Linked DNA regions of Homo sapiens. The protein of the gene in region 1 purifies or fractionates together with the protein of each later gene. This does not show direct contact. Each region holds a gene or a part of one and is shown on either strand. Other genes may lie near its edges. The genes, in order: ETV4 and DET1.

What was found.
Region 2: the proteins of ETV4 (region 1) and DET1 purify together in Homo sapiens (affinity purification with mass spectrometry; one large-scale study listed by BioGRID and IntAct). This does not show direct contact.

The regions. Positions count from the first base shown.
Region 1 is NC_000017.11:43,536,068-43,539,884, reverse strand, and holds part of ETV4 (ETS translocation variant 4), read left to right. Parts: intron 1-3,110; exon of another isoform or gene 3,111-3,405; coding exon 3,406-3,459; coding exon of another isoform or gene 3,460-3,473; intron 3,474-3,817.
Region 2 is NC_000015.10:88,515,621-88,519,437, reverse strand, and holds part of DET1 (DET1 homolog), read left to right. Parts: intron 1-2,464; coding exon 2,465-2,656; intron 2,657-3,817. UniProt on the Homo sapiens protein: Component of the E3 ubiquitin ligase DCX DET1-COP1 complex, which is required for ubiquitination and subsequent degradation of target proteins. The complex is involved in JUN ubiquitination and degradation.

The DNA.
Region 1 (3,817 bases):
CCTATGTTTATAAACACTTGGCACCTCTGATATTTAAAGCAAATTGTTGAAGAATATTCTTGCCAAGCAACATATCACAACCTAAAATATCCCCTGTGAGATGTGCTTTCCTGGAGAGGACCTGCCTCTAGTGTTGCCTTGTGTGTGGAGAGGGGGAGCCTGCAGGGAAGGGCTAGGATGGTCAGGATCTCTTCAGTGCATGCCCTCAGGCCCACAGTGCTGACTTCTGCCAGCCTGAGGACAAACGATTATTGCATGTTTATTCATGTAGTCAAGAAATAACAGCACTGAGCGTCTACTCTAACCCTGTGCTGGGTGCTGGGGCATCAGATGACAAAAAAGATAAAGCTCTTGCCCTCACAGAGCTTAACTTCCTGGTGGAGGAGATAGGTAGATAACAAACAGGTAAACATAAATTAATATATTCAGGTGGCAATATGTGCCAGGGAGAAAACAAAACATAGATGCAATAGAGAGCCAGGAGGAACCACTTTGGTTTAGGGGTGGTCAGAGAAGGCCTCTCCAGAGATGTCAAAGTGAGCTGAGACTCTGATGGTCAGGAAAAAAAGAAAAAGGCAAGAAAGCATCTGGGGAAGAAGGAACAAGCTCAGCAGCTTTGAGGGCTAGAAAGGAGACCAGAGTGCTGCAGATTCACAGGCAAGGAGAGGCAGGTCAGAGAGGTAGGCAAGGCCAAGTCATGCAGAGCCTTGGAGGCCAAGGGCAAGCGTTTGGATTTCATGCTTTAAATAACAGAGAGAAATGATTTTATTTCTGTTGTAAAAAGATCACTGTGACACCTAGGTGGAGAGCAAGGGACCATAGGAGGTAAGAATGAAAATAGGGTATCCTGGTAAGAGGCCGTGGGTGAAATCCAAGTAAGAAATGATGGAGCCTTAGCCTAGAGAGAAGCAAAAGAGATGGGATATGTATTTGTATAGGCCGGGGGTGTGGAGGTTTTTTCTAGCCATCTCATACCCCTCACCAGCCATTTTGACCTCTCTGGGCATTTTATCAGTTTCCCCATTGTCCAATCTGAGAGCAGTCTCCAGGGAAGGAGAGAGCAGTCTCCAGGGAAGGAGAGTCCAGCCTCCTCGGGCTACAGGTTCCACTGCATCACCCTAGAACCACTCTCTTCCTGGAATAATATCAGGAAGTTCTTCTTGGTGTCTACATTTCCTGCTGTGATCCATTTATTTTTGAGAGAGGGGCAAAAGTGGGCCAAGACTCTGGGATCAAGGGAGATTCTTAGCTGTATAACCACCTGAGAAGCCCCGCTCTGGGGAGGCCAGAATAAGAACTAGAAATCAGAGTTTGATGTTCAGGTTAGAAGCCATGGATGAGCTGCTGCTGTATTTCAGTTTTCCTGCCTATTCCCCAACCCAGCTCCACCCATCCTGGCATCCTGGGAGAGCTCTTCGGATCACCAACCTTGGGAATCCCTCCCCTCCTTAGCTGCACATTAAGGGGATGAGGCACCTATGTACTCAGCCAGTGTCCTTTGCCTTCTGCAGTGGTCCCAGTCACCAGCCTCCTGCTCTCCCACTGTCATCCTCCTTTTTTATTTTATTTATTTATTTTTGAGATGGAGTCTTGCTCTGTCGCCAGGCTGGAGTGCAGTGGTGTGATCTCAGCTCACTGCAACCTCCACCTCCCGGGTTCAAGTTATTCTCCTGTCTCAGCCTCCGGAATAGTTGGGATTACAGGCGTGCCACCACGTCCAGCTAATTTTTTTTTTTTTTTTTTTGAAATGGAGTCTTGCTCTGTCACCCAGGCTGGAGTGCAGTGGCCTGATCTTGGCTCACTACAAGCTCCGCCTCCCAGGTTCACGCCATTCTCTTGCCTCAGGCATACTCCTGCCTCAGGATTAGCTGGGACTACAGGCACCCGCCACCACACCCGGCTAATTTTTTTTGTATTTTTAGTAGAGACAGGGTTTCACTGTGTTAGCCAGGATGGTCCTGATCTCCTGACCTGGTGATCTGCCCGCCTCAGCCTCCCAAAGTGCTGGGATTACAGGCGTGAGCCACCGCGCCCGGCCTAATTTTTGTATTTTTAGTAGAGACAGGATTTCACCATGCTGGTCAGGCTGGTCTCAAACTCCTGACCTCGTGATCCGCCCACCACGGCCTCCCAAAGTGCTGGGATTACAGGCATGAGCCACCATGCCCGGCCTTTATTTTTCATTTTTTGGAACAGAGTCTCACTTTGTCACCCAGGCTGGAGTGCAGTGGCATGATCTCAGCTGACTGCAACCTCTGCCTCCTGGGTTCAAGCAATTCTCCTGCCTCAGCCTTCCGAGTAGCTGGGATTACAGGTGCCCACCGCCACGCCTGACTAATTTTTTAATTTTTTAGTAGAGATGGGAGTTTCACTTTGTTGGCCAGGCTGGTCTCAAACTCCTGATCTCAAGTGATCCTCCCACCTCAGCCTCCCAAAGTGCTGGGATTACAGGCATGAACCACTGCGCCCAGCCACCCCCCTATGTGATTTTATTTATTATTTAATTTTATTTTTCTTTTGAGATGGAGTTTCACTCTTGTTGCCCAGGCTGGAGTGCAGTGGTGCGATCTCAGCTCACTGCAACCTCTGCCTCCCAGGTTCAAGCGATTCTTCTGTCTCAGCTCCTGAGTAGCTGGGATTATAGGCTCCCGCCAACACGACCAGCTAAGTTTTGTACTTTTAGTAAAGATGGGGTTTCGTCATGTTGGCCAGGCTGGTCTCGAACTCCGGACCTCAGGTGATCCACCCGCCTTGACTTCCCAAAGTGCTGGGATTATAGGCGTGAGCCACCATGCCTGGCCGCCTCCTATGTGATTTTTAAATCCACAGGATCCCACTGCTTATAATGCCTGCCCATCCTAGATATGACTGTTGTGAGCTTTAAGGGAGTTTTGTAAACTCTGAGGGGCGAGGCTGTTTCACTTCAGAAAAATGGAGGAAATAAAGACAAAGCATCTAGAAGAAGAAAGACTGGAATCTGCTCAGACAGGTTCTGAGAACAGTCTTCCCTCCTGGGTCTTAGTGGAGCCCAGAGGTGGAAGACACTAGGACCTAGGGTGGAGCAGCCTTTAGTCTCAAGCAAGCTTGTCCAACCCGTGGGCCTGTGGGCCACTTTCAGCCCAGGGTAGCTTTGAATGCGGCCCAGGCCCAACATAAATTCCTTGTAAAATTTCTTAAAACATTATGAGATTTGTTTGTGATTTTAAGTTCATCAGCTATCGTTAGTGTTAGTGTATTTGTGTATTTTATGTGTGGCCCAAGACAATTCTTACAATGTGGACACCCCTGATCTAAAGGCTGTTGGTCCTTTCTTGGCTGTTGCTAATCTGCAGGGCTGTAATAATGGAGCCTCCCAGGGGACAACCAGGGCTCCGCCCCAAACTCACCTCTGACTTCTCTCTGCAGCTCAGGTACCAGACAGTGATGAGCAGTTTGTTCCTGATTTCCATTCAGAAAACCGTGAGTAGAGGTCCCTGGGGAGAGGGTATAGGGAGTGGAGGATGGCAGGAAGTGAGTCATAGGATAGAGAATCACAAGAGAGCAGCTTGTTCTCTCCTAAAACACAGTGGGGTTTGATCTTAAAGACCAAGGCAATAACTGGAATGAAAACCTTGGTTGAAATCTGGGGCTTGACATGTTCTTGCTGTGTGACCTTAGAGCAGACACTATCCCTCTGGTTCTCCATTGCCTTATATCTGAAGTGAGGGGCCTGGGCCAGTTCAGCAGAGTCCAGTTCTAGTGTTGTTTGTTTGTTTGTTTGTTTGTTTTCCCCCCAAGACAGAGTCTTGCTCTGTCACCCAGGCTGGAGTGCAGTGGC
Region 2 (3,817 bases), on another chromosome or scaffold:
GTAATGGTGAGGTTGAGGGTGTGACTGTGGAATAAGCAGTTGAGGTTGAGAGGAGGTCAAGGAACTAGCAGGAGGCTATGGTGCTGTAAAGAACCTTTCTGAGGATTTTGAAATTACCGAGAACTAAGAGAGGTATAGCTGGACAGAGTGACACTGGGGCAGGAACTAAAGTGTGAAGACATCGAAGAGAGTGACTGCTTTTAATCAGTGGGGAGCATGGAGAGTGGAGGTGGTAGGTGCTGTGGAGGAAGAGGAACTGTTTCAACTTGTAGATTATCACAGATGCTTTGATTTGTGGTCATCACAAAGCTGTGAGCCAGCCCCCATCATTTTACCTTTGAAAGCCAGGGAGTCGGTGAGTCAGGCAGGGCTAAGGTGTAGATGAGATGGTGCCAGGTCTTGCTGAAAACCGAAGTGCCCAGGATCTTTTATTTCAGCTCAAATGAAAGGGAAAAAATAAGCTCTATTTGGCCCAAGATTTATTTTTATGATTTATACTGAGGCTGTGAAAATTACTGTCAGTAGGAGTAATGGAAAAGCAGTGTTGCTTGCTAGGCTTTCTTTAGGGGGAGCAGAAAAGTGTTCATGTCCATCTAATACCATAGGTTAATAGTGAAAATAAAAATTACCCCCAACTAATTAATCTTTGTGGTCTCATGAAAGTTAGGAACACTGAAGTTTTTTATTCCATTTGTTTCAGGGATGAGATATTATACTTTTCTCCCAGACTAAAAAAAATTGATATCCCCTTGATTGTTGAACCATATGATATGCTTGAATATAGAGGTTTAAAAAATATATACTGATAGACAGTTGACATTCTTTCTAAGAAGCTGTAGGATAGTGAAAAATAAGGAAAAAATTCAAAATGTCATTATACAACTATTAACATTTTAATGTGTTTCTGCCAGTCTTTGCTTTAAGTGTGAGTTTTTGTTTTCTTTGTGTTTTTAGCCATATTATATAGACAGTATTGTATCCTACTTCTTTTATTTGTAAATGTGATAAACATTTCCCCTGTTACCATATAATCTTTGAAAATGGTAGTTTTCCATTAGCTTTTTAATTTTTTCTTCCTCTATAAACAATGCTGTATGAATGTACACAGAGATTTTTCTGCATGTAGGAGTGATTCCTTAGGGTAAATTTCCAGAAGAATAGAAGTACTTGTCAAAGAGTATTAAATTTAGTTTTGTGGCCAGGCACTGTGTCTCATGCCTGTAATCCCAGCACTTTGGAAGGCTGAGGTGGGTGGATCGCTTGAGGCCAGGAGTTGAAGACCAGTCTGGGCAACATGGCGAGACCCTGTCTCTACAAAAAAAAAAAAAAAAATTAGCTGGGTGTGGTGGCACGCACCTGTCGTCCTGGCTACTTGGGAAGCTGAGGTAGGAGGATTGCTTGAGCCCAGGAGAGGTGGAGGTTGCAGTAAGCTGGGGTTGTGCCACTGCCCTCCAGCCTGGGCAACACAGTGAGACCCTGTCTCAAAAAATAAAAATAAAATAAAATTTAGCATTTGTGACAGTGATGAGAAATAACTGTTCTGTTATTATTTTCAAAGATAAGTCAGATATATGACTCTATGTATGTTACTATTCTTCTAGATACTGGTGTCTCTGCAGGAATATAGGTAGCTAGTTTCCAAATTTTATTTAAACAAACAAAGAATGCGTAATTTATTTGTGAAAGGCTTGCTAGAAGTTGGTGATCCCAAGAAGAGTCAGAGGCTGCTTCTGTTCAGGGTTCTCTGTAACTCCTTCCTAATTCAGTCTAAGGCAATTATTTGGGGAAAATAAGTTCTTGACCTTTTTCCCCAGTTGAGCTGTTATTAGAAAAGAGTAGAAATAGTTGCCATAAACTAGTTATACTCATTTTAAACTTGTTTGTAGAGTCTTTGTTAACTTTTCTAAAGTAGGGCCGGGTGTGGTGGCTCATATCTGTAATCCTAGCATTTTGGGAGGCCAAGGCGGGCAGATCAGTTGAACCCAGGAGTTCAAGACCAGCCTGAGCAACATGGCAAAATCCCATCTCTATAAAAAATACAAAAATTAGCTGGGTGTGGTGGCACGTGCCTGTAGTCCCACCTACTCTGGGGGCTGAGGTGGGAGGAACACTTGAGCCTGGGAGGTCAAGGCTGCAGTGAGCTGAGATCACACCACTGTACTCCAGCCTGGGCAACAAAGCGAGACCCTGTCTCAAAAAAAAAAAAAAAAAAACCCAAAACCCAAACACATTTCTAAAGTAATTTGTTGTTTTCCATTTTTAGTTATATGTTTTGCTTTTTAAAAGTATTTGTAGCTGGCCAGACTTGTAATGTGTGAGAGACAGTTCTATCTTAATTCATTACCTAGGTTTTAATTTGTATTTAAAGAATGAGTTGTTCTTAGACATATATTTGTCAATTTAAAATTCAAGACAGCTTTGTGTACTCACTAACAAAGCCTTCCTCACCGGTCCTTTCATTTAGGTTCAAAGACACTATTATAAATGCCAAGTATGGAGGGCACACAGAGGCAGTACGCCGGCTGCTGGGTCAGCTCCCCATCAGTGCTCAGTCTTACAGCGGTAGCCCCTATCTGGATTTGTCTCTCTTCAGTTATGATGACAAGTGGGTATCTGTCATGGAGCGGCCCAAGACTTGTGGAGATCACCCAATCAGGTACAGTGTCACTGCTATAGCTACAAACTGCTCAAGGGCTGAAGATGGCCTGCTTTCTTTTTCTCTTTTTCTGGACATCATTTGATTGTGACTGTGACTCGTACTCATGGGTAAGGTTGAAAAGGCAGGCTATTTCTATAATGCAGTGAGAGCTGTGATCATTTAGGTGCTAGTCTCCTAAATTATTCCTACTCTTTGCTTCTCATCAGAACATCTAATTCAGATAAGTGTTGTCCTCTTTTAAAGGTATCCAGGGGAGGAAGCTGTACTTTCCCATTTAATAATCTAATACCATTCCATAATAGTTTTTGACATTGAGACTTTATAATTATGTATCTAACACAAATTATTTTATCCCGCCATGTTACCTCATAGAAAAAATAGCAGAGACAATTTGGGGACCTGCTGACAGATTTAGAAGAAACTCATGCTTCCTCACTTGGAGGAATTTTGGAATGTAGACTACTGTGTTATTGTTAGAAGTTTGAAACTGACGTCTTACAAGAAATTCTTTCCTCACAGAAGTCTAGTTCACAGACCCAACTGTCACTACATATATGGAGCCTGTTCTGTGTGCTGTAATAATATTAGGGGGAGGAGCTGGAATTATTGTCACTAGTGGAGTTATCTCAAGGGGGGTGTGTTCCTGAGGCTATAGGCTGGAGCTTGGAAGGTCTTTTTCACACAGAAACAGTGGTAGTTAGATCTTTATGATAGATATATTTCATCATCCAGTCTCATTGTGTATTAAATGTGCCTGTGTGACATAGTCTGTATAATTAATCACCATTTATAATATTTCCTTTGGGAAATTAGAGTCAAGTTCCAAAAACTAGTTAATATTTTTTTTATTATGGAAAGTTTTAAACGTATACAAAAAGTAGAAGAGCATAATAAACCTTCATGTACCCATCACCCACTTCAACAGTTACCAGCTCGTGGCCACTCCTGTTTCAGCTATTTCCATCACGACCCCTACTCCCTCCCCTTCCCACCACTGTCCTGGGTTATTTTAAAGGAAATCCAAGCTATCCTAGCAAAACAAGTAACACCATTACCCCATCTTTAAAAAATTAACAAAAAATCTTTAATATCTTCAAATATCTAGTCAGTTTTTATGTATCCCTGTTGTCTTATAAATATTCTTTTTATAGTTAATTT